Linked DNA regions of Homo sapiens: region 1 is linked to region 2. Evidence: fine-mapped expression QTL. A gene starts in region 2. The other region holds a variant in brackets. All regions are shown on one strand. Distances are from middle to middle. Region 1 overlaps MVK (mevalonate kinase). Region 2 holds the start of MVK (mevalonate kinase).

Region 1 (16,532 bases), 31 kb after region 2:
GCACCTCCCTCTGTCCCTGTCCCCTCTCCAGCTGTTTCCTCCATGGAGCTCTTCAGCAATGGAGGGAAATAGGGTTTGGGGTCACTTTGTTGTGCGTCTTGGGGATGAGGTGGCTTTTCCCAGATGGCCCTTGCTGGAGAGGGACTGGGACACGGCTCTCAGTCCATCAGCACAACTCTAGGCTGCTGCTGCGGAGGGAGAAGTTGAGCTTCCTAGCTCCAGAATCACAAGCACCCACGAGAGCACAGACCTGTGTAAGACAGGAAAGCAGAACCTGCCATCGCTCCTGGGGCGCGCCTTCCTTTCTGAAATGAACTGGCTGGATGGAGAAAACAGACTCAAATGTTCTGGCCCGGGTGCCTGGCACTCCCCACCCCCGCCCCCCACCGGCCCTATTTGAACTTTATATTGCAGTCAGCTTGGTGCTTTCCGAAATGCCATTAGCCATCAGGAAACCCTTGTAGTTGGTGCCTTGCCAGCCAGAACCTCTGGGACCCACGGACCTGCAAAGAGGCCGAGTGGAAAGGTGGGGGCCGGCGCAGGGATTTCAGGATGAGGTGAAAGCGATTCAGTGCGCGTCTGCCCTTGGCCACTAGGGGGCAGCTGGCGGCCTTCCCTGCTGTTGTCTTCCTGCAGGGTGAGAGGAGCAGGAGCCGAGCTCCACCCCCACGCCAGCCTTGGGCCCGGCCTGGGATCACTGCTGGGAACGTGAGAGTGAAGGGAGGACGCCTACCCCAGCTTAACTTGTAGAAATGGCCCCAGATCACTGATGGCTGTTCCCTGCCCCTTCCCTTCAAAACACAACGCATAAAGCAGTAATACTAATTAATACTGAACGCTCACTGTGGACTAGGCGTGTTTACGCATCGCCCCTTCTCATCTCTGCCCCGACCTCAGTGTCATTGCTAGTCTCATCCCCGCTTTACAGACCAGGAAACCAAAGGTCAGAGAGATCGAGTAACTGGTGCAAGTCCACACAGCTCATCAGCATCTGAGGCCGGATTCAAATGGACTCCAGAGCCTGCTCTTAGCCCCTACGTGTGTCTGCTGGGTGCGGCTCTGTGTGCAGGCTCACTGCGATTTTTTAGCTTTCTGTGCTCAGGCTCGTTTTTCTGGATTCGGATGTATTTGACCGGGGTGGGGCTCGGACCTGCATGTTTTCCTCCCCACGCGATTTTAATGAACAACCAGGCCAGAGGCTGCTGTGCCCTCAGTGATGGCGCTGGCTGACAGCCAGCCTCCAGCCTTTAGGAGGTGGGCCTGGGAGCCTCCCCAGGCTTCCATAGATGTCCGCGGCAGCTGTGAGATGGGTGCAGGGGACAGAGGCTGAGACCCCCAGAGCCCGTCTGCTCCTTGAGGCCCTCTCTCTCTCATTCCCTGGGGACAGGATGTCACTCCTGGGGCAGGGGCCAGCTCAACACTCTTGCTCCAGTGAAGCAGCTGCCGGTGCGCTTTGGCCAGAGCAACCTTTCAACCCAGCCACCCCTGCGGCCACCATATGGGCCTGGTGTCACACTCCTGGCTACCTTGTAGACAGTTGGCACTTGCGGCTGTCACCCCTTCTCATTGCCTATTGCAGTGGTTCTCGCTCTCAGAGCTGCACCTCGGAACCACCTAAGGACCCACGAATTCCTGACTCCACCCCAGATATTCTGAGTTAATCTGTCTCAGCGGTATCTTTTTAAAAAGACATCTTTTAAAAGCTCCCAGGTGATTCTAACGTGTGACCAAGCACCACATGGTGCTGCACACCTGTAGTCCCAGCTACTCAGGACGCTGAGGCAGGAGGATCGCCTGAGCCCAGGAGTTGGAGGCTGCAGTGAGCTATGATGGTGCCACTGCACTCCAGCCTGGATGACAGAGTGAGACCCCGTCTCAAAAATATTTTTAAAAAATAAGAAAATGCAGCCAGGGCTGAAGATACCGAACTGGATGACCCCAGGGTCATCTCTGCACGCCATTGTGGTGGTTGAGCACTTCAGCCCTGCCCACCCCCTGGCCATGTGACCTTGGGCAAGACAGCTTACCTCTGGAGGCCACAGCTTCCTCATCGGGAAAGTGGGATTCACTAATACCCACCTTATGGAGGTTTCGTGGGGATCAATGAGAAAATATACAGAAGGCCCTTGACACAGTGCGTGGCACACGGTAAGTGCTCAATAAATACTCATTATTATAACTGTCTTATGCTGAGAGATAAGGGTGTCTTCCAGAGCCCCAAAACTTCAGAATGGTGCACAGAGCTGGCTCAAGGCGCCCTGCCCAGATGGTCCAAAGCCCCTAGGTTGAGACCCCTTGGGTCGCTGTTGGAGAAACACACCTAAGGCCCACCGGCTTTCCCACCTCCCTGCTTCCTCTGCAAAGAGGCGGTCACATAGCACTGACACCTTCTTTGCGAGGGGAACAGCAGTGCCTTTCAGGTCATAAGCTGGAGCCGCTCCCAGGGTCTGCAGCCTGAAGTTCTCAGAGAATTTCCCTGGTTCTGGCAAGGGTCTCACTTTGGGAGGCAGGCAGGAAATACTGTGGTTCTTTCCAGACAGAGTAGCTGCTATGGTTGCACTGATGTCGTCTCTGTCAGTGAGGAGTCCTTTTATTTATTTTTAGACAGTCTCACTCTGTTGCCCAGGCTGGAGTGCAGTGGCGCCATCTTGGCTCTCTGCAACCTCTGCTTCCCAGGTTCAAGTGATTCTCCCGCCTCAGCCTCCCAAGTAGCTGGGATTACAGGTGTGTGCCACCACGCCTGGGTAATTTTTGTATTTTTAGTAGAGACAGGGTTTCCGCCACGTTGGCCAGGCTGGTCTCGAACTCCTGACCTCAAATGATCTGCCCACCTCGGCCTCCCAAAGTGCTGGGATTACAGGCATGAGCCACCACACTTGGCCTGGTGAGGAGTCTTTCCTCACCAAGGTTTCTGTGGCCTGCTGGCAGCCAGTCGCGTTGGCTGGCTGGCTCCAGGTCAGCAAGCGTGGTGGGGGGCCGGCCCTGCCCTTCGCTTGTGCTTGGCCCAGCCAGCTCCTTTCTCCTCCACGGCTGTTTTCCTCCTTGTTTCCTCAGCTAGCGCCCTTTGGAAGACACCTGGCTCAGGGGCCCGCACCTCGCAGGTGCTTCCTTCCCCAGCCCTTCCTGGTTTCCAGCTAATTTTGGACAAGTTCTTTGGCTGTCTCTTAGCACCTACTGTCTTCTAGGAAGGGGCAGAGAGCTGGATTTGAGGCCAGGAGCTCTGGTTCCTAGTCTGAGCTCTTTAGTTCTCAAATTATAATATTTTTACTATTACAGAAACAGTGTAAATACACTGTAGAAAGAAAATACAGATTAGCAAAAATCACATCAAAGCACTGTGTTTTTACCATACAGAGATTACCCCTGTGAACAGCTGCCACCTTTCCCTCTGTGTGTGTGTGTGTGTGTGTGTGTGTTCATGCTGTTCGATAAAGTGAGATCATACTGTACATGCTGTTTTGTTACCTACCTTTTTGGTTTCCAGTCACCTTTCTCTGTCAATATGTTTCATCTCTAATGCCCAGGCTATAGTCACATTTCCTCCAGTTGGGCCAGGTGTCCGGCACCCTGTCTAATACCACATACCTGGCTGTTACAGCCCTGGCTTCTCTTTTAATCTAGCACAGCAGCCCTACACACACACACACACACACACACACTCATACCTATTTTTCTCCATGATATGACTTGCTTAAGAGACCCAGCGGATCATCCTGCAGAATGCTGTGTCTTCTACACTGGTCATTCAGAATCCAGCCCCTCCACATGGCTTTGGGAGGTCTTGAACCCTTTACTGAGCACCTACGATGTGCTCAGCATGGTGCTAAGTGCTTTGTGTGCTTTATCCCTGTGAATCATTTCAGTCCATTGAGCTAATTACCGTGCTTATCCCCATTCTGTTGGTGAGTAAACTGAGGCCCAGAGTAGGGAAGTGACTTGCCCAGGGTCACGTGGCAGAGTGGGATTTGCACGCAGTTCTGTGTAACTTCAGGGCCCTGCTCTTAGCCCGTGTCTAGACTCTCCCCGGGGAGGTGACTGGTGACCTCTCCGAGCTCCCTCTCCCCACCATACCTAATTGACAGAACTGAGTTGTCACATCTGCCCCAGCGGTGCTGGCCCAGCTCACCCCTGCTGCCCGCTTGGCCCTGGCTGTGAACACCTCAGACCCCCAACCTACACAACAAACAGGCAAAGGGAGCAACCTGCCAAAGAACATGATGTGTGGTCTCACAGCACTGTGCCCGGAGCCCCCACCTCCCCATATCCAAGGAAAACCTGGCACTGGGCCGAACCTCACACCTCACACCTCATGTCCTCAAAACTGAAACAGACAAGGGCAATGGTCTCCCAATGAATGCTTCAGTTGCTTGAATCCAAAAGTGTCAGGGTCAGGAGGACCCTTGGAGATCACACAGTCCATCACCTCGTTTGCTGTGAATGCGGAGACCAAGACTCAGAGAGGGCAAGAGATTGCCTAAGGTCACACAGTGAGCCACCTTGTCCTCTTCCTTGCCATTTGGTTTTCTCCATGCGGCAGGGTTGTCACAGGAAAAGCACTTGCAATCCAGAGATCCGTCTTCAGGCCCAGCTTCTGCACCTGCTGGCTGCGTGACTTCCAGCCGGGACTCCTCTGTACCCCCAACTCGGCCTCAGTTTCCTCAAATGTAACATCCCAGGCAGGGTGCTAAACCCCTCAGGCATCATTCCACTTACTTCCCACAGCAACCCTGCAGACCAGGTACAACAGAACCACAATTCTTTGTCCAAAATCCTGGGGCCAGATGTGATGTGGAATGGAGGATTTTGCAGGTTTTAGGGAGACCCCCTCCCGGCCCATGTTTCATTCCACGTGGCATCTGGGGCAGCACCACCAACCCCTGACTCTATATGAAAGGTACGAAGAGTCCCACTAAGTCGAGTGAAGGCCATAAATAATATGTGAGCCTATGTGGCACTGGCCTTTTTTTTTTTTTTTTTTTTTTGAGACAGGGTCTTGCTCTGTTGCCCAGGCTGTACTGCAGTGGCAAGATCACAGCTCACTGCAGCCTCGACCTCCCAAGCTCAAGCAATTCTCCCACCTCAGCCTCCTGAATAGCTGAGACTACAGGCATGCGCCACCACCCCCTGCTTCTTTTTCTACTTTTTGTAGAGATGGGGTTTTGCTATGTTGCCCAGGCTGGTTTCCAGTTCCTGGGCTCAAGCAATCCTCCCACCTCAGCCTCCCAAGGTGCTGGGATTACAGGCATGAGCCACCATGCCCAGCCTGCTGCATTTGCTGACAAATGAATTTTGATGCCAAGGCCCTGGGTTTCAGAGTGTCTTGGGTTGTGGGCCTGAATTATTTCCCCATTTTGCAGAGAAGCAGACAGATGCTCTCAGACAGGCTCAGTGGCTCACCCGAGGGAGTGTGCTCAGGTTTGAACCCTGTCAGTCTAGCTGGACGAGACCTCCTGCACCGCAGGGTCTGACCAGGGCCCTTCTTTGTCGCTCAGGGTGAAAGGGCTCTGTACTGGCCAGTGGGGGGTGAGACGCCATTCTGCCTGGTGCAGCGTGAGGGCAAGGGGCCCCGGGTCCCAGGTACACTGGCTCAAGCTATTAAGTCAAACCAGAGTCTTCTGTCTTATTTTTTTTCCACCATAAACCTTGTAATGTGACAAACGAGGCTGCAGAAAAGTGGCCAAGTGACAGGTCCATGACATAGCTGCCGGACTCTCTTGGGGTTTCTGTTTCCTCCCAAAAACCAGGGAAGCAATGAGGGGGCCACAGCCCGAGGGAGAGGGAGGGGGCTCCTTCTCCTCCCAGACCAGCCCCTGCCTCCCTCCAGACCTAGGGAGGGCATGGGGGAGGCCTGAGCGCATTGATTCTCACCACACTCAGGCTCACAGAGCAGGGAGCCACTTACTTGCACAGAGAGGGTAAGAGACGGAATGCCAACTGAGCCTCTTTTACAGGCATCTGAGCCCAAACCTCCATGCTCCCTCACTCAGATTAACAGGGTCTGTTATACGTGGTTTTTCGTTTGTTTTTTAATCTCTCTCTCTTTTTTTTTTTTTTTTTTTAGAGAAAGGGTCTCCCTCTGTCACCCAGACTGGAGTGCAGTGGCGTGATCACAGCTCATTGTAGCCTTGAACTCCTGGGCTCAAGCAATTCTCCCATCTCAGCTTCCTGAGTAGCTAGAACCACAGGCTCATGCCACCATGCCTGGCTATGTGTTTTATTTTTTTGTAGAGACAGGGTCTCTATGTTGCCCAGGCTGGCATGTTGTCCTGGGCTCAAGCGATCCTCCCACCTCGGCCTCCCAAAGTGTTGGGATTACAGGCGTGAGCCACTGCACCCAAGCTGTTATACATATTTTAAATCTGATCAGGAAAATATCCATTTTGAGGCATTTGGGTAATGCACTGGCTGAGGCCACGGTGGCCCCCTTGGATGTTGAAGGGGCACCGAAGCTGTCCTAGGCACATGGGCATCCTCCCTGCCCAAAGAAAGAAGCTGCCAGACTCCACAGCCACTGCAGGCAGGATCCAGCCCCTTCTTCATGAGCACTATCCATTCAGCAAATGTTAAATGCACACGTTCTATATGCCAGGAACTGGGCCAGGCCCCAGGGAAGTGAGGTGACTGACCAGAGCTGCTCCTGCCCCGCTTCGGCATGCTGGCCGTGGTTCCGGAGGCTTTCGTGTCACTTCCTCCGCCCATACTCATGGCGAGCCCAGGAGGAAAGTGTGGTGAACCCCATTTTACATAGCAGGAAACTGAGGCCCAGAGAGGAAGTCTCTGCTCCAAGTCATGCAGTCATCAGGTGCAGAAGCTCGGCCCTGAGACAGGTCTCTAGATTCCAAGCACAGTGCTCTCCTGTGTCACCCTGGCTGTCTTGGCCCCAGATGTGGAGGTGAGCATTTGTGGGAGAAGGGAGGTGAGCAGGATGTGGAGAGGGGAAGGCAAGGAGAAAACCAAATGAAAGAGGACAAGGTGGCTTGCTGGGTGACTTCCGGCAGGTCTCTTGCCCTCTCTGGGCCTCATTGTCCCCATCCATTGAAATAATGGTGTCTGTTTACTCTGCCAGAAGCTCCGATGCTCTCATTTAATCCTCCTAGCAATCAGTATTTTGTGGACTCTGGGCTCAGACAGATCTGGCCTTTGATCTGTGGCCTGACTACTTCCAGCTCTGGGGCCTTAGGCAGGTCACATTATTTCTCTGAGCCTCAGGTGCCTCATCAGTAAAGTAGAAATACTAGGAAATAATGCACATCTAAAACATAGCTCAGGCTGGGCGCAGTGGCTCATGCTGTAATCCTAGCACTTTGGGAGGTCGAGGCGTGCAGATCCCTTGAGCCCAGGAGTTGGAGACCAGCCTGGACAACATGGCAAAACCCCGTCTCTACCAAAAATACAAAAAAATTAGCCGGACATGGTGGCACATGCCTGTAGTCCCAGCTACCTGGAAAGCTGAAGTGGGAGGACTGCTTGAGCCCGGAGGTCAAGGCTGCAGTGAGCTGAGATCGCGCCATTGCACTCCAGCCTGGGCGAAAGAGCGAGACTTCATCTTAAATAAATAAATAAATAAATAAATAAAACGTAGCCTGGCACCTAGTACTTAGACTCAGCACCCGGGGGATAGGAACTATTGTTATTATCAGAGAGGGGGAAACTGAGGCTCAGAGAGGCGACGCGACAGCTCAGAAGTGGCCAAGCCAGGATTTGAATCCAGTAGGACTGACTCTAAAGCCTGGGGCCTCCTCCCCTTTCATCACTAGGCAAGGCTAGGTTTTGCTGACATGTCCTGTCCCCAGAGGGAGATTAGAGGGAAGAGCCACCCCTTTCAGCCCTGAGGGACTTAAGCAACTAGTTGGATCTGGCTGGGCTGCCTGAGACCACAATGTGAGCCAGTGATGATCACAGGTCTGGAAGTTGGAGGACACAACCTTGGAGGAAGAGACTCCCCTCGAACCGAGCACCTGCCTTCTGTTGTCAAGACAGCCACATCTGCTCCATTTCCCCTTTGACTTCACTGGGCAAGGGATGTTTTGTGCACACAGCTGGCCTTGTCCTTGGCAGGCATCAGAGCGGCTCTCACTCGCCCCACGTTACCATCTCCTACCATCTGCCTCAAAGAGACACATCCACCACTTGATGGACGTTGGTCCATCAAGATCATTCCCCGATAGAGCTACAAGGACCTACACTCTGCAGATGAGGAAACTGAGGCACAGAGATGGGTCACGCAGTATGGTTGTGGCAGAGCTGGGACTCAAACCCAGGCTCTGAATGGCTGAGGGTGCTGGGTCAAGATGGGGCATCCCAAGGTCAGGAAAAAGAGCAAGAGAGCTGCTAACGTGTCCTCACTGGCCCTGGGAGATGCTAGTACCTCTGCTGATGCCAGTAGTCAGTTTTGACCAGAGTTGGCTCCACGGAGGGCTGAGGGCACGTGGATGCAAGAGTCACGGCTTTGATGAGGAGTAGGGTGAAGGTGTGTGGCGAGGCCAGGATCGGGACTCCCCACCTCCCCACCTGCCTTGTGTGGTTGAGGAGAGCACTGTGCAGGGAGCCAGCATTTCTAAATGCTGTGTGACTTAGGTGAGTGGCTTCCCCTTTCTGGATCTCGGTCTCCTTTTCATATCTGAGATGTTATTCCCAGACCCATGAGAAGCCCCCGGGGGCCGTGGCCTGGTCTTGTTCCCCGCCTGCATCTCAGCATCACTCTGATAACCTCTCCCTGCTCAGGGGTCTCAAACTCACAAGCCTCCAGGGACCAGGCAGGCAGCCACAAGCCAGGCTTGGGGAGGACGCGGCAGGCCCCTGGCCCCAGCTCCAGCCAGCTGTTGCCCTGCAGGGTGGTGAACCCACCATCCAAACCTTTCTATTTAATTTTTAAAAAGAATTCAGAAATCTGGAGTTGTGGATAAAATTTGATTTTTAAATACCGTTCAGTAATAAAACCAAATTTTAAACAATAACAAATGATTATGTCAAGCCCGGGTGCAAAATGGAAACCACCCCAGGGTTGAGACCTTCAGAAGCCGGGCCCCTCTGGCTCTGGGGAGTGAGCTGGGGCATGGGGGTCACCCCCAGGGGTGGGGCCCCCCCTGGAATCTGATTACCCCTCAGTGCCCCACGAAGCAGCAGGCCTGCGGGTGGCGGGGCGGCAGGGGCACCGGCGGCTGGGTTGTGAGCTCATCCCCGGGAGGCACAGATGGTATTTTTTTTTATCAGTGTCAGCACGGACTTCTTTCTGCTCTGATGACTAGATTCTAAAGAGGCAGTGACATTATTTGAGATAACAGAGGGAGCAGAAAAAGGGTCAGCAATGGAGAGAAAACGGCAGAGCCAGCAGATAAAGGGGAGGCCGGAGGGGGCGGAGCACCCTCGCTGGGGGTGCACCCCCCCATTCTTGTGATTCCTGCTCCCTAAGCCTGGCTCCCTGTGGTGGGGGCTGGAATGCCGCCCGGCCCAGGGCAGCGGAGAGGCCCAGACAGCTGCGCCGAGCCGCCCGCTCTGCTCCCCGGCAGCCCTCCTTGGCTGCCCGGCCGCCCATTCCGCCTTTTCAATTCGATTCAATTAGGCCGCCCCGCTCGGAAGCTTGTCTCCTCTGATATCCAGTTTAACTGACAGGGGATTAGTGCTGTTTGTATTACACACACACTCTCTCTCCGGCTGCCAAACTGCTGGCAGGGCCCTGGGACCCGGGTTATTTATGGAGCTGGCTGGCCATACCTTCCCTCTCGGACCTGCTTCCTTTGGAAGCAGGGGGCTGGGGGCCCTGCTCTGTGCTCCCCCTCCATCCCAACCCCACCACTTCCTGATCCAGGGGCCTGAGGGCCTGGGCAAT[G/T]GAGCAGAAGAGCCCAGATAGAACTGGGTTCGAATCTCAGCTCTGCCACTTGCTGGCTGTGTGACCTTGGGTGAGCAACATTGCCTCTCAGCCTCAGTTTCTTTATGTGAAAAATGGAGACGAGGAACCGGCTCATCAGGTGGTTGTGGGGATAAAGCGAGGAGGCAGGGGCAGGGCACTGAACACAGGGCCTGCGTATTCACTGTGCATGTTCACTCAGCGCATGGGACGGGGTGACGATTCTGCACTGGGTGCTGTGCTGAGTCACAGAGGAGGTAGTGGTGGGCCATGCTGATCCAGCCTGCCTTCCAGAAGCCCACACTCAGGTGCAGGAGAGAAAAATGAACATGGAGTCCCTCCCGGTGCTCACACAGGGAGCCCTGGCTAGATGGGAGCATTGATGACAGTGATGATGATGGAGATGGAAACAAGTGCCACCCCAGGCCCTTTGCCTCTGCTGTTCCCTCTGCCTGGAACATCCCCCCGACCCCCCCACCCCCGCCACACACACACACACCTCCTCCGCACCCTCACACTTCACCTGGCTGGCATGTGGCCTCAGTTTACCACTCACCTCCTCCAAAAGCCTTCCCTGACCCACCCTCCTCCTAATGCAGTTCTCCCCTCTTGCCCTCCATCTCTCCCTTTGCTTTATGTCCAAATGTGCCATCTGTTGTTGACTTGTTGCATCGCCTGTCTCCTCAGGAAACTGCGCCTTCCTGAGGGCACACATAGGAGCCCACTCACCGGTCCCCCTGAGTCTAGCACAGTGCCTGGCTCATGCTAAGAGCTTGAGTCTTTCTGGATGAATGGATGCATAAAGGAATGAATGAATGAACAGAGAAGTAGACAGACAAAGGCCCCCTTGCCTGCAACATGGCCATCCTGCTCAGCTCAGTACATCTGGCTTCCCTAGGCCACCTGCCCAGCCCTCCAAAGGGGTTTGCTGGGTCTTGGAATAGGTGGAGGTCAGGTGCTGGTCCAAAGCAGGTGTGGATGCTTCTCTTCTTATCCTTGCTTTACTCAAAGGGAAGGAAGGGCCTTTATAGACCTTTCCTCTCAGCATTCAGGGGACTAGTGAGTACTTTGAGGTGATGGGCTGGAAGGCCCCAGGCCTAGGAAATGTCCTTATTTTGGGGAAGGGCCTCATGCTGCCAGGTCCCGTCTGCATCTTCTCCCTCACTCCGTTTCACAGATCTTGGGTGTGGGGGCACTGGCCCTGACATGCAGGTCTGAACATTTCTACAATTCAATGCAATGAAATAGTAGCCATTACTTACTGCACACACTGGTGCCAGGCTTAACACCCATGACCTCATTTCATTCTCACAAGAGCTCTCCATTCCCCAGAAGAGAAACCTGACAGTCAGAGTTGTGGTGGGGTGTGCCTGACATCACCCAGCCAGGAAGGGGTGAAGCTGGGATCAACCCCAGGACTCTGAGGTTCAATATCTGCTCATTCATCTAACATCTGCCATGTGCCAGACACTTTGGTGTGCGCTGTCTCCCGATGTCCTGAGAAGTAGGTATTCTATGCCCCACTTTGCAGAAGGGAAATTTGAGACTCAGAAAGGTGAAGTGGCTGAACCTCAGTCTCACAGCCTGCTAGGGGCAGAGCTGGCTGGAAACAAGGGTCTGCTTGAGCTCTCATCCAGTTTATAACCTCTACCCTGTGGTTTCTTCCTCAACTCAAGGCCCTGGCCCTGGGGTGTTTCAGATCGATATAGGGCGTGGGTGGGCAGGGAGGGCACACATCTATCAAGCAGCAGGTGCTGAGTTTCTCAAGAGCCCCTGAAATATGACACAGTCCCTGCTGGTAAGGGAGATGTCATCCAGTTACAAGAATATCAAATAAATATGTAAAGAGTTACAAGAATTCAATGACATATAGGAATGTTGAGTACTCTCCCAGGGTGCATGCGTGACTCACAAGTCTGAGCAGTTGGGCAGGGAAGGCAACCTTGAAAGATACATGGATTTGGAAACAGAAGCCCACAAAATAATCATTACAATTACAATGAACTGATCATTATGATGATGATAATAATCATTAATAATGACTACAATTCAGCCCCATATTTGTAGGTCTTGCTGTTCCCATTTCACAGACAAAGATAATGAAGCTCAGAGACAGGAAGCAGCATGCCTAAGGCCAGCCAGCAGGTAGATGGGGCTCAAGCGCAGAGCCTTTGATCCCAAAGTCAGTTCCTCTTCTCCAGCCCTGGACTCGCAGAGTGTCACACTCACAGAGTGTCACAAGTAGCAGGTGGTCTGGCCTGGGTCTTGATGGTTGAGCCAGCATTTGTTTCAAGGGCCAGCTTCTTGGCCAAGGGCCAAGTGTGGCTGGGGCGGAGGTATCCGGTGGAGGTACTGCCTGAGCTCAGATGAACCCTTCCCTGCCCTCCAGGGCTTACAGGGCAGAGCAAGCTAAGCAAACTGATGATGACAGTGAAGAGCAGTGGATTCTGAGTTACCATGGGAACAGGGAAGAAGAGGGGTGCCTCTTCTTCCTAGCCTGGCATGGGATCAAGGAAGGCTTCCTGGAGGAAGAGGTACCTTGGTGGAATTTTGGCTGGGCTAGAAGGTAAGAGAGGGCATTTGAGGCAGCAAAGGCACTGAAGTGAGCAATACCGTGGTGTGCGCAGAGAATCCAAACGCTGTTCTGTGTTCAGTTGGAACCTACAGTAAGTATGAGGCCAACATAAAGCAAGTTTTATCCTGAGGGCTCTGGGGAGCCAGGGTGGGTGTTAGGCAGGGATGGTGGGGTCATAATGATGCTTTATAAAGTTCTCTGGCTGCGGCATGATAAATGGAGGGGCAGGGGGAAAGGAGTCAGGTGAGAGGTACAATGGCTGGAGAGGGGCAGTGGCATTAGGGACAGATGGAGAGGAGGTGACAGATAGGAAGATTTTGTAGGTGCCTGGAGCAGCCTTTCAGTTTTGGAGTCCACCTTGTCACTCTGTTCAAGGAGCGGGTATACCCTGCTCCCTTCTTTTGAGACTGGTTCTCACTCTGTCACCCAGGCTGCTGTGTGGTGGCACAATCACAGCTCACTGCAGCCTTGAACTCATGAGCTCAAGCCATCCTACCACCTCAACCTCTCAAGTAGCTGGAACTACAGTCATGTACTAGTATGCCTGGCTAATTTTTTACTTTTTTTTTTTTTTTTTTGTAGAGATGGGGTTCTTGCTATGTTGCCCAGGGTGGTCTCGAACTTCTGGGCTCAAGCAATCCCCCACCCCTCGGCCTCCCAAAGTGCTGGGATAACAGGCATGAGCCACTGTGCCCGGCCATATACCCCTCTTTTGATAGTCTCCAGCTGGAGGTGGGGCCTCTTTTGCCGATGCCCTAGTTGGCATGGAAGCCCTTTATAACGGTGTTCTAATTAGGGCTCCCATAACAAAGTACCATAAATGTGGTGGCTTAAAACAACAGAGATTTACTCTGTCATGGTTCAGGAGGCCAGAAGTCTAGAATGAAGGTGTCGACAGGACCAGGGACCCTCTGAGACACTGGGTCCTCTGAGAACCCTCCCTTGCCTCTTCCTAGCTTCTGGTGGTGGCTGGCAGTCCTGGGCTTGCGGTTGCATCACTCCAGCCTTGGCTGTTGCTGACACATGGCCTTCTCCCTGTGTGTCTGGCTTCACATGGCATTCCCTCTTATAAGGACAGCAGCCCACCCTCATGACCTCATCTTAACTTGATTACATCTGCAAAGACCTCATTTTCAAATAAAGTCACATTCATGGGGATCCGGGGTTAGGACTTCAAAATCTCTTTGTGGGGGACACGATTCCACTCCCAATAACCCCTAAGGGGCTGGGCATGGTGGCTCATGTGGGTAATCCTAGCACTTTGGGAGGCTGAGGTGGGAGGATTGCTTGAGCTCATGAGTTTGAGACCAGCCTAGGCAATAGGGTGAAACCCCATCTATACAAAAAATACAAAAATTAGCCAGGCACTGTGGTAAGCGCTTATAGTTCCAGCTACTTGGGAGGCCAAGATGGGAGGATGGCAGGATGGCTTGAGCTCAAGAGTTCGAGACCAGCCTGAGCAACATGTCGAAACCCCATCTCTACAATAAAATACAAAAATTAGCTGGGTGTCGTGATGAATGCTTGTAGTCCCAGCTATTCGAGAGGCTGAGGTGGGAGGATGGCTTGAGCCCAGGAGGTAGAGGTTACAGCGAGCCGAGATTGCACCACTGCACTCCAGCCTGAATGACAGAGCCAGACCTTGTCTTAAAAAAACAAAACAAACCCTAAGGGCAGGGGTTTTGCTGGTTGTTTCTGCCTCTGTGGTCTCCAGCCAGAGCCTGGCATATGTCTGTGCCAGAGGGGAGTTGTGGATAGAGTCAGAGTGTCCAGTCTCTCCCCGTGGGTGACCGCAGCCCCTGCTGCCAACAGCAGCAGCCACAGCCCGCTTGGCATCTGGGCAAGGCAGGTCTCCCGGGAAGCCCCCTCCCACGGGCTGTTCTCCGAAAGAAGTGGTGTTGATGTCGGCAGGTGCCTGTCACTTCCCTTCCCCAGCAAAGTCTCAAACTGTCAGAATAAGTGAAATAGTCATTGCCTATCTCTGCGTTTGAGATTTTATTGGCAGTTTCATTGTCACCCAAAACAACCTCCTTTTCTCCGTTGGCGTTTTCATCAGATGGGTCTGTGGGCAGGAGGAGGAGGCAGGGCTGGCTCCTAAAAACAGGCCTGGGCAGGTCATGGTGCTGGCTCCACTGGGCTGGAGTCAGCAGGGGCAAAAGACCCCGTGGTGGGCTCTGCCATGCCTTGGCTCCTGCAGAAAGCTGCTGGGCACTCTCTCCAGGGAGCAAAAAGGAAGTGAGAGACGGAAGGTAAAAACACCCTGAGAGCCCCTGGAGATGGTCACAATGGCCAGATGGGGCAGCCCAGACTGCACAGTGGGTCCTCAGGCCCTTCCCCAGTCCTCCCTGGTGGGAATTAGGGGGGCATTATGGTGGTGGGGTAGGAGCATGGGCTGTGGCATCAGACCCACCTGGCGGCAGGCACCTCAGAGCAAGCACTTCTCCCTGCAGAGCCTCAATGTGCCTGTCTGTCAAATGGGGTGGTAACAGGAACCTTCCATCAGCTGAGGGCTTGATCTGGGCCACACACCCAATTATCCTGTTCAGTCCTCCCCAGAACCGAGAGAGGTGGGTGTGCTCAAGCTCTTCATTTTCTTGATATGGAAACTGAGGCAGCCCGACCAAGGTTACCACAGCAGGCAAATTGCAGGGGTTGGGTTTGAATCCAGGCTGTGAGACTCCAAGCCTGGTTGTGAATCCACTTTGGAGGGTTAGTGGAAGGAGTGTAGGTGATATTATTTTTTTTTTTTTTTGAGACAGGGTCTCACTCTGTTGCCCAGGCCGGAGTTCAGTGGTGCGATCACGGCTCACTGCAGCCTCTACCTCCCAGGCTCAATTGATTCTCCTACCTCAGCCTCCCAAGCAGCTGGGACTACAGGTGTACACCACCACACTCAGCTAAGTTTTAATTTTTCCTAGAGGCGGGATCTCTCTGTTGCTCAGGCTGGCCTCGGACTTCTGGGCTCAAGTGGTCCTCCCACCTTGGCCTCCTGAAGTGCCAGGATTACAGGTGTGAGCCATTGTGCCCGCTGGTAATAAAGTGTCAACAGAGTACTAGGCACATGGGACAAAAAGCCATCTGTTATTGTTGTCTGGGCATGGGGTAGAATCTGGGCCCCTTGGCAGTCACTCTCTGTCCTGGGACTTTCTGGACATCACTGGGTAGTTTCACCCACAGGGTGGCCTAAGGAACCTCCAAGGGAATGGGGTGAGCTCAGGAGTTCCACTGAGACTGGGGGTCCCTGTGTGGGGCTCAATCCTGCTTCATGCTGTGATCCTGCTGGTGTACTCTGTCCCTGGCCCCCAGCAGGGCTGGGTGCCACTCTACCACATCCAAGCATCACAGAAGGGAATCTGAGGCCCAGAGAGCTGTCCCTTGCTCAGGGCTCCTGAGCCAGGGAGGTGGATACAGTGGTTAGAACCACAGATTGTGGAGTCAGTGAACTCCATGTTTGAGTTCTGGTGTGGCCACCTGCTGGTTGGTTAACAAGTTGCTGAGTCTCAGAGTCTCAGTTGCATCCTCTGCACATTGGGATAATAAAGGATTCCTCTGGAGACTGGGTGCTGTGGCTCTCACCTGTAACCCAGCTACTCAGCAGGGAGGTTGGCTTGAGCGGGGGAGTTCGAACCTGTAGCCCCGGTGCTACTCAGCAGGGAGGCTTGCTTGAGCCCGGGTGTTTGAGGCTGCAGTGAGCTATGATCACACCACTGCACTCCAGCCTGGGTTACAGAGTGAGACAGTCTCTAAAAAAAATCACATCCCCCTGCTAAGGCCGAGGGGACAAATGATGCTACACAGAAGACATTAGCACACAGAGAAAAGAAGACAGAGTTTTGGCATCTACAGGCTCCTTGAAGATCTCAGACTCCAGCCCATTCTTGGTGCAGAGGAGGAAACTGAGGCCCAGAGATTAGGGAGGGTTTCCACTTAGCCACCCCGCAGAACAGGGGCTTGTTCCTTGGCCCTGTAACTCCCGATCCAGAATGTCAGCCACCTCCCCAGCTGGCGTCGTCCCGGGAGTCCCCTCCGCCCCTCACCTGCCCTTCTCCCCGTGTCTCTGCCTTCGAGAGCCCAAGCTGCGGGCCCGCAGTGAGGAATGCCATTCTCCCT
Region 2 (10,221 bases):
CCCCCATGTAACCCCTTTTAGTTGCCACTCCCCAAGGGTTAGCCACTATGCTCACTTCTTTCCTGATGTGCTTTTCAACTTAAAAACCACATACTAACCATCCTGATAAAGAAATACAACACGTTCTATATTTTATATCATATATACATTACCATTATATTTCACATGAAGTCAAAGTCCTCTGTGCCTCTGCCTAGCTCACAGTCCCGCCTTTCTCCCCCAACCTCTGAGAAAGTGAAAACTGCCCCTGACAGTTTGGAGCTGGCTTTCGCTATCGGGCAGGCTTTGGGGTTGCCAGGTGCCGGCCTGGCACTCACAGGTAGACTGTGGTGTTCTGCTGAACACAAACCATTTCACAGAAAACCATCAGACAGGCCACTCTATGACTATGACGGTTCGAGACCAAGACAAGGCCACTGCGGAAGAACGTCTGAGCACAGACGACTGTGTCCAAACTCCAAAAGATGACCAAACCTCCCCCTTCCCTGGCTAATGTGAGTGACTGCTGCATCTTTATCCATTACAGCGTTAGCACCTCTTTGTCCCTTCTGTCTTCTAGAAACAAATTATTAACATACCCAATTACAGGCCAGGTGCAGTGGCTCACACTGTAATCCCAGGACTTTGGGAGGCCATGGTGGGCAGATCACTTGAGGCCAGGAGTTCGAGACTAGCCTGGCCAACATGGCAAATCCCCGTCTCTACTAAAAACAGAAAAAATTAGTTGGGCATGGTGATGCATGCCTGTAGTCCCAGCTATTCGCGAGGCTGAGGCATAAGAATTGCTTGAACCCAGGAGGTTGCAGTGAGCTGAGATCGTGCCACTGCACTCCAGCCTGGGCAACAGAACTAGACCCTGTCTCAAAAAACAAAAAAAGATACCCAGTGACAGAAACAGCCCTGCTTCCTAACAGGATTCAATCCAGAACAAAGCCCCACTTCCTTGTAACCACCCAACACAAGCCCAACCCTACAATAAGTCCTTTCCAACATCCTCTTCCTTCTTTTTAATTGTGGTAACAGATGATACATAACAGAAATTTTACCATTTTGACCCTTCTTAAGTTTACCATTCAGTGGCACTGAGTATGTCCCGTACATGCTTTTATACTTTTACTATACAAGTATATATCCAAAAAACAATACATACTAGTGGTCTGCATGCTTTTGTACTACAAAAAATGGTATACTGTCTTGGTGCGGTAGCTCATGCCTCCTGTAATCCCAGCATTTTGGGAGGCTGAGCTGGGAGGATACCTTGAGCCTAGCAGTTCAAGACCAGCCTGGGCAACACAGCAAGACCTCATCTCTACAAAAAAAATTAAAAAGTATTAGCCAGGCATGGCGATGTGTGCCTGTTGTCCCAGATACTCAGAAGGCTGAGGTGGGAGGATTGCTTGAGTCTGAAAGGTGGAGGCTGTTGTGAGCCATGACTGAGCCACTGCACTCCAGCCTGGGTGACAGAGTAAAACCCTGTATCAAAAAAAAAAAAAAAAAAGGATCATAGCAACGCATTCTTCTGCATCTTACTTTTTTCTATATAACATGTTCTAGCATTTTAAAAACTATTAAAGTAATATATACTCATTATAAAAAATAATAAAATAGAATAAAAGTATGTAAATAGTGAAAGTCCTTCTGTTTGTTCCCCTCTCACAACTTAATCTCTCTCCCAGAACAGTCCCAGGTGTAACCTTTCAGACTATTCTACACACACCTGAACACACATATATGTACATGCTTATCCAGACAGATTCAGGCTTTTGTCATTTAATATCTCTTGGGTGTTTTTCATTTCACATTACATTTTTGTAACATATTTTGAGATCTGTCAAATATCATACTTTTTTTTTCTGAGACTTTTTTTTTTTCTGAGATGGAGTCTTGCTCTGTCACCCAGGCTGGAGTGCAGTGGCATGATCTTGGCTCACTGCAACCTCTGCCTCCCGAGTTCAAGCAATTCTCCTGCCTCAGCCTCCCAAGTAGCTGCTGGGGTTACAGGCATGGACCACCATACTCAGCTAATTTTTGTATTTTTAGTAGAGATGGGGTTTCACCACATTGGCCAGGCTAGTCTCAAATTCCTGGCCTCAGATGATTAGCCCAACAGGGCCTCCCAAAGTGCCGGGATTACAGGCATGAGCCACCGCGCCTGGTATATTATACTTTAAAGTGGCTGCAAAGAATTTGGAAGAACTTTAAAATGGTGTATGCCATGAGTATTTCTTTGCATTTTTCACCTGTCCCCACCCTACCTTTGTCTCCCGTTTTGGTGTAAATCTTGGGGATCCTGGGTGTCTTCGAGGAAGGCTGTGGCCTAATGAGAAATAAACATCAGTATCTGGTGAGTGGGGATGGCTTACACAGAGGGTCAGCTCCTTCAGAGGGTCCCAGCTTGCTGCTTGTAACCTCAGAGGCAGCACTTACCCCTTACTGCTTAGATGGTCATCTCTTGTTGATTTCTTTCCCCTAGATCCTTTCTAATAGCAAACATTTTGTGGGCAAGACCAGAGCTGGATGACAGAGTGTGTAGAGTAGCTGATGTAATGCCTTGCTCAACAAAGATGCTCAATAAATATTTGCTGAAGGACTTGATTGATCCTTTGCCATTGTCCCTGCACTGTGCCAAGTAGTTTACAGGCATTATCTTCTGGAATTATCCTGGAATCTTTCCACAACCCCAAAGGTAGCCAACACCTATTCTCTTCATTTTACTGAGGAGGAAACTATGGCTCAGATGAGACACCTTCCTAGACCATCCAAGAAGAGGCAGGAGTGGGATGCCCAAAACTGTCCTAGACCAGAGCACAAACTGTAACTTCTATCCTACCGAAATTATTTATTTATTTATTATTATTATTATTATTTTGAGATGGGGTCTCACTCTGTCACCCAGGCTGAAATGCAGTTGCACGATCTAGGCTCACTGCAACCTCTGCCTCCCAGGCTCAAACAATCCTCCCACCTCAGCCTCCCGAGCAGCTGGGAGCACGGGTGTATACCACCACACCCAGCTAATTTTTTTTTTTTTTTTTTTTTGGTAGAGACGGGTTTCACCATGTTGCTCAGGCTGGTTTTGAACTCCTGAGCTCAAGCAATACTCCTGCCTCAAACTCCCAAAGTGTTGTGATTACAGGCGTGAGCCACCGTATCTGGCCTATGATTATTTTGTTCACAGACAGGGTCTTGCTCTGTTGCCTAAGCTGGAATGCAGTGCAGTGGCATGATCATAGCTCACTGCAGCCTTGAACTCCTGAGCTCAAGTGATCCTCTGCCTCAGCCTCCCAAGTAGCTAGGACTCTTAACTCTATCCTACCCAAATTTTTATCTTATACTCCACCAACTCAGGGCCTCTTGCAGGAAAAGAAACCTGAGCCACTTCCATAGTATGAGGCTTCGAGTGTACTCAGAGATGAAGAATTGCCAAAATACAGCTCAAAAAGTGGCATTTTCAAAAAACAATGTAAACAACTCAAGGACATAGCTCAAAATTAAAATGTGACATTACAAGCCCATTCGAAGGTTAATTTCCTGGATCTGTGAACTAAATTAATCCATTATTAATCCACGGTACTCTAGAGGTTCTGAGGTCTGGGTTGAGGTGCAAGTTTCAAGGAATATGAGGAAAGCCATCTTTAGAAGGTGCTGGTGTATCTGGGACCTGGGGAATAAACTGCTTTGGAGATTGGTCACAATCTGAGTCGAGAGCCCTCCTGGCCCACATGGGATATGCCCTGCCCTGCCCGATGATAGCGGGACTTCATTGGGACTTAGGCAAAGACTACCTGGTCTCTGGCGCCCACGTGGCCCACGTTGCCATGGTGACGTCAGAACAGCGTGGAGACGTCACCTGACGGTTGCCGCGGTGACCTCACGGCGGTGTGACGTACCCATGGCGACGACACCACGATTCACGGCAGGTGTTCGAGTTGCCCTTCCCGCCAGCCACTCACCTGTCCCCGTCTTCCACGCCCTGAGGGCCGCGGCTCTGGAAACGGGGATACAGGAGCCTGGCGGCGCCGAAGCACCCGCGCAGGCCAAGACGGCTCCCCAGGCCAAGACGGCTCCCCAGGCCGCACACAGCCATGAGCCAGGCTGCTTGACGGGACCTGACCCCGCCAGGTTCCCGTCCAGTCCGCGGGGTGACTCCACCCACAGCTGGCCGCGCCACCGCTCAGGTTTCAATTTTTATTGGTTCGCAGTTCTCACCCCAGGGCGGGACACTCCCAGGGACTTGTTTCCCATTGGTTTAACGGAAGGAGCGGGGCGGGAAAACCCGTGTCGGCTTGGCTGCAACACCTATTGACCAATGTTCAAGCCTATTGGTAAAGGTACTCCGGGCTCGCGCGCTCTGATTGGCTGGCCTGAAGTACAACGCCTCCTCCCCTTGAGGCACGGGCGCTCTGGGTTGTGGGAGTTGGGGAGCTGCTCCGGCTTCGGCGCGGAGGGGCGGCGGCCGGGGAGGCGGCGGCGGCGGCAGGTGAGAGGCCGGGGTCGGGCGGCCGGGCGGCGCGAGGTCCTAGACCCAGGACGACGCTGAGCCAGGCGTCCAGCTTCTGTGGCTCAGTTTACCCAGCTCTGAGAGTCTTGCCCCGAGGGATCGGCGACCTCAATCTGACAGTCGTGATTTTGAGCTTGACAAGCAAGGGGATTCCCCGCTCTGAGCCTCAGTTTTTCTAAGAAATGGGGATCACGATAGTACTTAGCTCATAGTACACCTGAATCTTAGCGTAAGGTAATCTACGTAAAGCCTTAAGCGGAGGATAATTTTGCGTTATGTATAAAAGTGTAAATTGCACACACCTATAGACCCTGCAAGCTCCTTTCTAGGACTCTGTCCTGCAGAAATACTCATTTAAGTGTGCAAAACGAGGCGTACTGGGTGTTTTCTGCAGCCTTGTTTATAATTGTGACACATTGGAAACAGCCTAAATGTCCAGCAAAGAGTTCTTTCTGCTCCATGATTTCATGTAATTTCTACCTTTAATAGTAGTAGTTGTAAAAGCTGAAACGAAGAACAGAGCCAGTAATAAGTAGCTCTCAGTAATTGAATGATTAGTAGGTGCCAGACACCGCCAAGTGTTTCCCTTGCGTTAATTTAACCTTCCTAACATCCACCGAGGTAGGTACGGTTATTTTCTCTCCATATAACGTGTGGGGAAACCGAGGTTCTTAGCCATTTAAGTGAGTTAACTAAGATGACATCACTGGGGAGTGGAAGAGCTGGCATTTGAACCCAGATCTGTTGGATGTGTCCAGTTGACTCCTGCATTGCCTTTCTGGTACGTAGCAAGTGCTGGACGGTAACTACCTTTTTTGTTATTATGATGGGCTTGAACTAGGTGTTCTAAGATCTCTTCCTGCTGGTTCTGACATCTAGAGATCTTTGCTCTTCTCATTGGCTTTCCCTTTTAGGATTCCCAGGAGCCATGTTGTCAGAAGTCCTACTGGTGTCTGCTCCGGGGAAAGTCATCCTTCATGGAGAACATGCCGTGGTACATGGCAAGGTACAAAGCCGTTAGAGCCTTTAAGGATTGGGTACCCCTTCTCCCTGATGCTAATTTTGTAAGAAGGTAAAAGGACACCCTGAGGCACAGCTTGGGAGCAGATCAGAGAGATCAGGTTCTCCCCAGCCAGGCAAGGAAAAGATTTCTTATGCCCACTGAAGGGATTCTTGGGCCTCGCTCGGTATGATAGCAAAAAGATGATTATAATATAAAGCCCTGTGAGTGGAATGAGATCACCTAGGAGTGAGCTTTGATGCAGAAGGAAAGAGGTTTGAGAACTGAGCTCCGGGGCACTAAGACATTTAGAAGTTGGAAGGATGATCTAGCAAAGGAGTTGAAAACATCCATTATCTCATTTTACCCTTACAGCTACCCCCAAGGCATACCCTTTTATTATCCTATTTTACAAATGTGCAAACTGAGGCTTAGGAGAGAAGTGGTAACTTGATCCAAGTCCTATATACCTTGGTAGAGCTTGGTGTGAACCTAAGTCTGTCTGAAACCACCTCTGCTGCACTCTGCTTTTTTTTTTTTTTCCTGAGACAGTCTTGCTCTGTCACCGGAGTGCAATCTTGCGATCATGGCTCACTGCAGCCTCCAACCTCAGCCTCCCAAGTAGCTGGGACCACAGGTGTGTACCACCATGCCCCACTAATTTTTTTCTTTTATTTTTCTGTAGAGACGTGGTCTGACACTACGCTGGTCTCAAACTCCTGGGCTCAAGTGATCCTCTTGCCTTGGCCTCCCAAAGTGCTGGGATTACAGATATGAGCCACCACACCTGGCTTCTCACTGCTATTCTTTATGTTCTTATATTTCTCATTGAAAACATGGTGATTATGGGGAAGTGATTCCTTGGTATTGAGAACCTCTGAAATTTTGCAGGCAGAAGGCAAAGTGGATTTTAACTTTTAGCTGATCGATGGTGGCTGTTCCCAGGCTTAGTGGGAGAGCATGCCAAGGTTGATTAGCAGTGTCTGGCAAGGGCATGGCTAGGAGTGGCCTCTGTGCTTATGTTTGCTCTCTTCTTAGCACGTGGGTCCTGGCCCCTTTGCCACTCACCCTCAGGCTTATTGCTTTTGTCATTTATTCTATAGGTAGCACTGGCTGTATCCTTGAACTTGAGAACATTCCTCCGGCTTCAACCCCACAGCAATGGGAAAGTGGACCTCAGCTTACCCAACATTGGTATCAAGCGGGCCTGGGATGTGGCCAGGCTTCAGTCACTGGACACAAGCTTTCTGGGTGAGTGCAAGGAGGAGAAACCAGGTGTGCTAAGAGCCTACAGAGAGGGCAGCTGGCCAGGTATTCTGGGCTGTCCCCAAGGGAGCCAGGGGCCAGCTATTTCCCGGGTGTTTTCTACCCTGACCTCATAAAATTAGCTTCACTCATTTTATTTTTTTAAAATTTATAGGTGTAAAACAATGCATTGGATCTCTGTGGGCTGTTGTGGACAGATCATCAAGGCCTATTGTTGAGTGAAAAAAATGCAAAACAGCAAACATACGTATTTAAGTATAAATATGTGTATAAATGATAGAAAAGGTCTCGGGGGCATAGACATCAGATTGGCAGTGGTGATTAGTTCTCCTGGGAGAGACCTAGGGCCAGAGAGTAGACAAAGTGACACATGTTTTAAATAAGGAGAATATATTGGCATTTTGTATAATTAAAAATTGATAAAAGTAGGCCAGGCACAGTGGCTCATGCCTGTAATTCCAGCACTTTGGGAGGCCAAGGCGGGCGGATCATCTGAGGTCAGGAGTTCGAGACCAGCCTGGCCAACATGTCGAAACCATGTCTCTACTAAAAATACAAAAATTAGCTGGGTGTGGTGGCACACACCTGTAATCTCAGCTACTCAGGAGGCTGAGGTAGGAGAATCGCTTGAACCTGGGAGGCAGAGGTTGCAGTGAGCCAAGATTGCGCCATTGCACTCCAGCCTGGGGGACAGGGCAAGACTCCATCTCAAAAAAAAAAAAAAAAATTTAATAAAAGTACAAGTTACCTATGCTTATTATTGGAAAATATAGTCAATACTGGGACATTGTAATTTTAAAAATCACCTATTATTTCCCTTCTCCTTTCCCTGACCCCAGTAATGACTCTAAGCATTTAGGCATTAATCCTTCTGGGTGATTTTCTGTAGATTGATAGAAAGATTGATAGAGACAGGGAGATATCTTGGTTTTTTAACCAAAATTGGGTCAGGCCATATAAACCATTCAGAAGTACTGATTTTTTCTTTGTGTGTCACGTGTGTGTGCTGATTTTTGACAGCACTGTGAAGATTTCATCCACTCATAAGCAGGCCAGCTTTTTCCATCAGTGGAGTCCCCTGTACCTGCCCCAGAGCTGACGTGTGTTTTCTCTGTTGTCAGTTTACTGTCTGCTCCCTGGGCTGAATGAAGCCTTGCTCTTTGGAACAGTGTTTCTCAGCCAGGATGGGGTAAATGAGAATCTTTTTGGGTTTTTTCCTTACACTGCACCTGAACCCTTGACACCTGCTTCCCATTCCCCATGAGAAACCACAGTCACTCCCATATGCCGTATGGGGATGGAGGAAGAGTTGAAAATTCTCATTTCACTTGTTGAGATGGGGTCTCACTGTGTTGCCCAGGCTGGTCTGGAACTCCTGGGCTCAAGCAGTTTTCCACTTTCCCACCTTGGGCTCCCAAAGTGCTGGGGTTACAGGTGAGAGCCACTGTGCCCAGCCAAAATCCTCATTTTAGAGCAGCCCTTTTTAACTTCATCATATCTTGGAATCACCCAGGAGTTTTTTGTGATGGTGGTGGTGGTTTTTTTTAACCAATACAGATGGATGGGCTCCTGGCTCCGCCCCTCTCTTATTGGGAGTTGGTAGTGGTGGTAGGAGTTTTTGAAAGGGGTTCCTTGGGTGATTCTGGGGACACCTCAGTTAAAAGCCACTCCTTTGGAGCGTGCATCTGAAAACAACCAGCCAGAGCACATGGAACTTGCTTTCCAAGGTGCACAGGGCCACCCAGCCAGACCAGAAATGTCTCCTGAGAACCAGCTGCAACTTGTGTATGTCAGTAGCTTGGGGTGGAAGCAGCCAGGTATGGGGGAACATGTCTCAGACCACTCCAACTCCCTCAGTGAACCTGGGGCAGGTCACTTCATCCTCTGGGCCTCGGAGCAGAGACATGTTTCCTGACTGAGGGCTGCCATGAGGATCCGACGACACTGGAGGCAGGCATTAGGGGTGCGACACAGAGTGCATTATGTAGGGAAGGGCTTGTTAGTTTTGGAGCTCTGGGAGACATACTATCTTCTAGGTTGCAAAGATCTACCATCTTTCTTTCAGTGTCCTTTTGCTCCCTCCTGATAGTAATAAACATTGAACTTTTTTTTTTTTTTTAAGAGGCAGGGTCTTACTATGTTGCCCAGGCTGGTCCCAAATTCCTGGGCTCAAGTGTTCTTCTGCCTTAGCCTCCCGAGTAGCTGGGAATATAAGCACATACCACTGCACCGTGCTACTACAGTGAACACTTATTGGGCACTTACGTGTGCCAGGCACTAAGTGTGTTCACATATGTTAGCACTCTTAGAATTCGCCAGCATTCCCTGGAAGTAGGTGGTGGTATTCATCCCCATTGTACAGATCTGAAAATTAAAGTTCAGAGGTCAAGTGGCTCAGGTTACACTTGTTGGTGACACTGAAAGGATTCAGACCCAGGTTTCTCCTAGCCCCAAAGTCCAGGCTCTTAACAGCTGTTCCATCTCGATTACAAAGCTCTGAAATACCTGGGTTCTCAATGATGCCATGACTTGGCCATTTGAGTATATCATTAATCCATTCAACACACATTTACCCAGTACTTAACCAGTGCCCGAAGTTTCCTAACACACGCATGCCCAATTCCATTTCCCAGTCCCTTGAGAATGTGACCTGAGGCTCAGCGAGTGATTTGTAAAGGTGAGCTGGCCAGAAAGGCTCTGCCTTCTCAGTGTCTCAGAGGAAAGTGGCCCAGGTTCCTGTACATCCCTGGGAACAACCTGCCTCACCTTCCCCTTCTGCCCAGGCACCGCCTCGCATTTACACTGTCCTATTCCTGATGATTATCTTTTGGAGGAGGGAAATATTTTGGGGGTTAACTTAACACTCTTTTGATTTTGGTTTTATACAATGGAAGGTGAAACCTAGGCCCTTGTGCGATTGAGCCAGCATTCTCTGTGTGTGTCTGTGTGTCTGTGTGTGTTTGTTTTAAGACTACAATTTTTTTTTTTTTTTTTTTTGAGACAGGGTCTCACTCTGTTATGCAGCCTGGAGTACAGTGGTGCGACCACAGCTCACTGTTTCTTCAACCTCCTGGGCTCAAGCGATCCTCCTGCCTCAGCCTTCTGAGTAGCTGGGACCACAGGTGTGCGCCACCATGCCTGGCTAGTTTTTGTACTTTCTGTAGAGTTGGGGTTTCGCCATGTTACCTAGGCTGGTCTCAAACTCCTAGGCACAAGTGATCTGCCCACCTTGGCCTCCCAAAGTACTGGGGTTACAGGCATAAGCGCCTGCACCCAACCTTAAAACTACTGTTAATTAGCACTTACTACATGCCAGGTGCTGTGCTAAAAAGTTTACACCCCTTATTTAACTTTACGTTCCTGACAACCGTAAGAAGAGGCACTGTTGTTATCCCTGTTTTACCAAGGTGGGAAACAGGTTCAGGGAGGTTAAGTCACACGGCCAGTAAATGGC

Evidence for each region.
Region 1: its variant is fine-mapped to the expression of MVK in anterior cingulate cortex (GTEx, PIP above 0.99).

What each region holds. Positions count from the first base shown.
Region 1 is chr12:109,597,284-109,613,815 of GRCh38, forward strand. It overlaps MVK (mevalonate kinase), which reads left to right. Exons shown (of 11, transcript NM_000431.4): 11 at 1-842. Among named protein-coding and RNA genes, the nearest start is that of MVK, 32 kb to the left of the region's middle. RefSeq lists enhancers at 1,245-1,934, 13,942-14,442. The variant G/T (reference allele first, on the strand shown) is at 9,830.
Region 2 is chr12:109,569,394-109,579,614 of GRCh38, forward strand. It overlaps MVK (mevalonate kinase), which reads left to right and starts at 4,401. Exons shown (of 11, transcript NM_000431.4): 1 at 4,401-4,480; 2 at 5,416-5,507; 3 at 6,605-6,752. The coding sequence starts at 5,430. It overlaps MMAB (metabolism of cobalamin associated B), which reads right to left and starts at 4,111. Exons shown (of 9, transcript NM_052845.4): 1 at 3,954-4,111; 2 at 2,256-2,317. The coding sequence starts at 4,087. RefSeq lists enhancers at 3,501-4,002, 4,003-4,502 and silencers at 4,262-4,391, 4,412-4,641.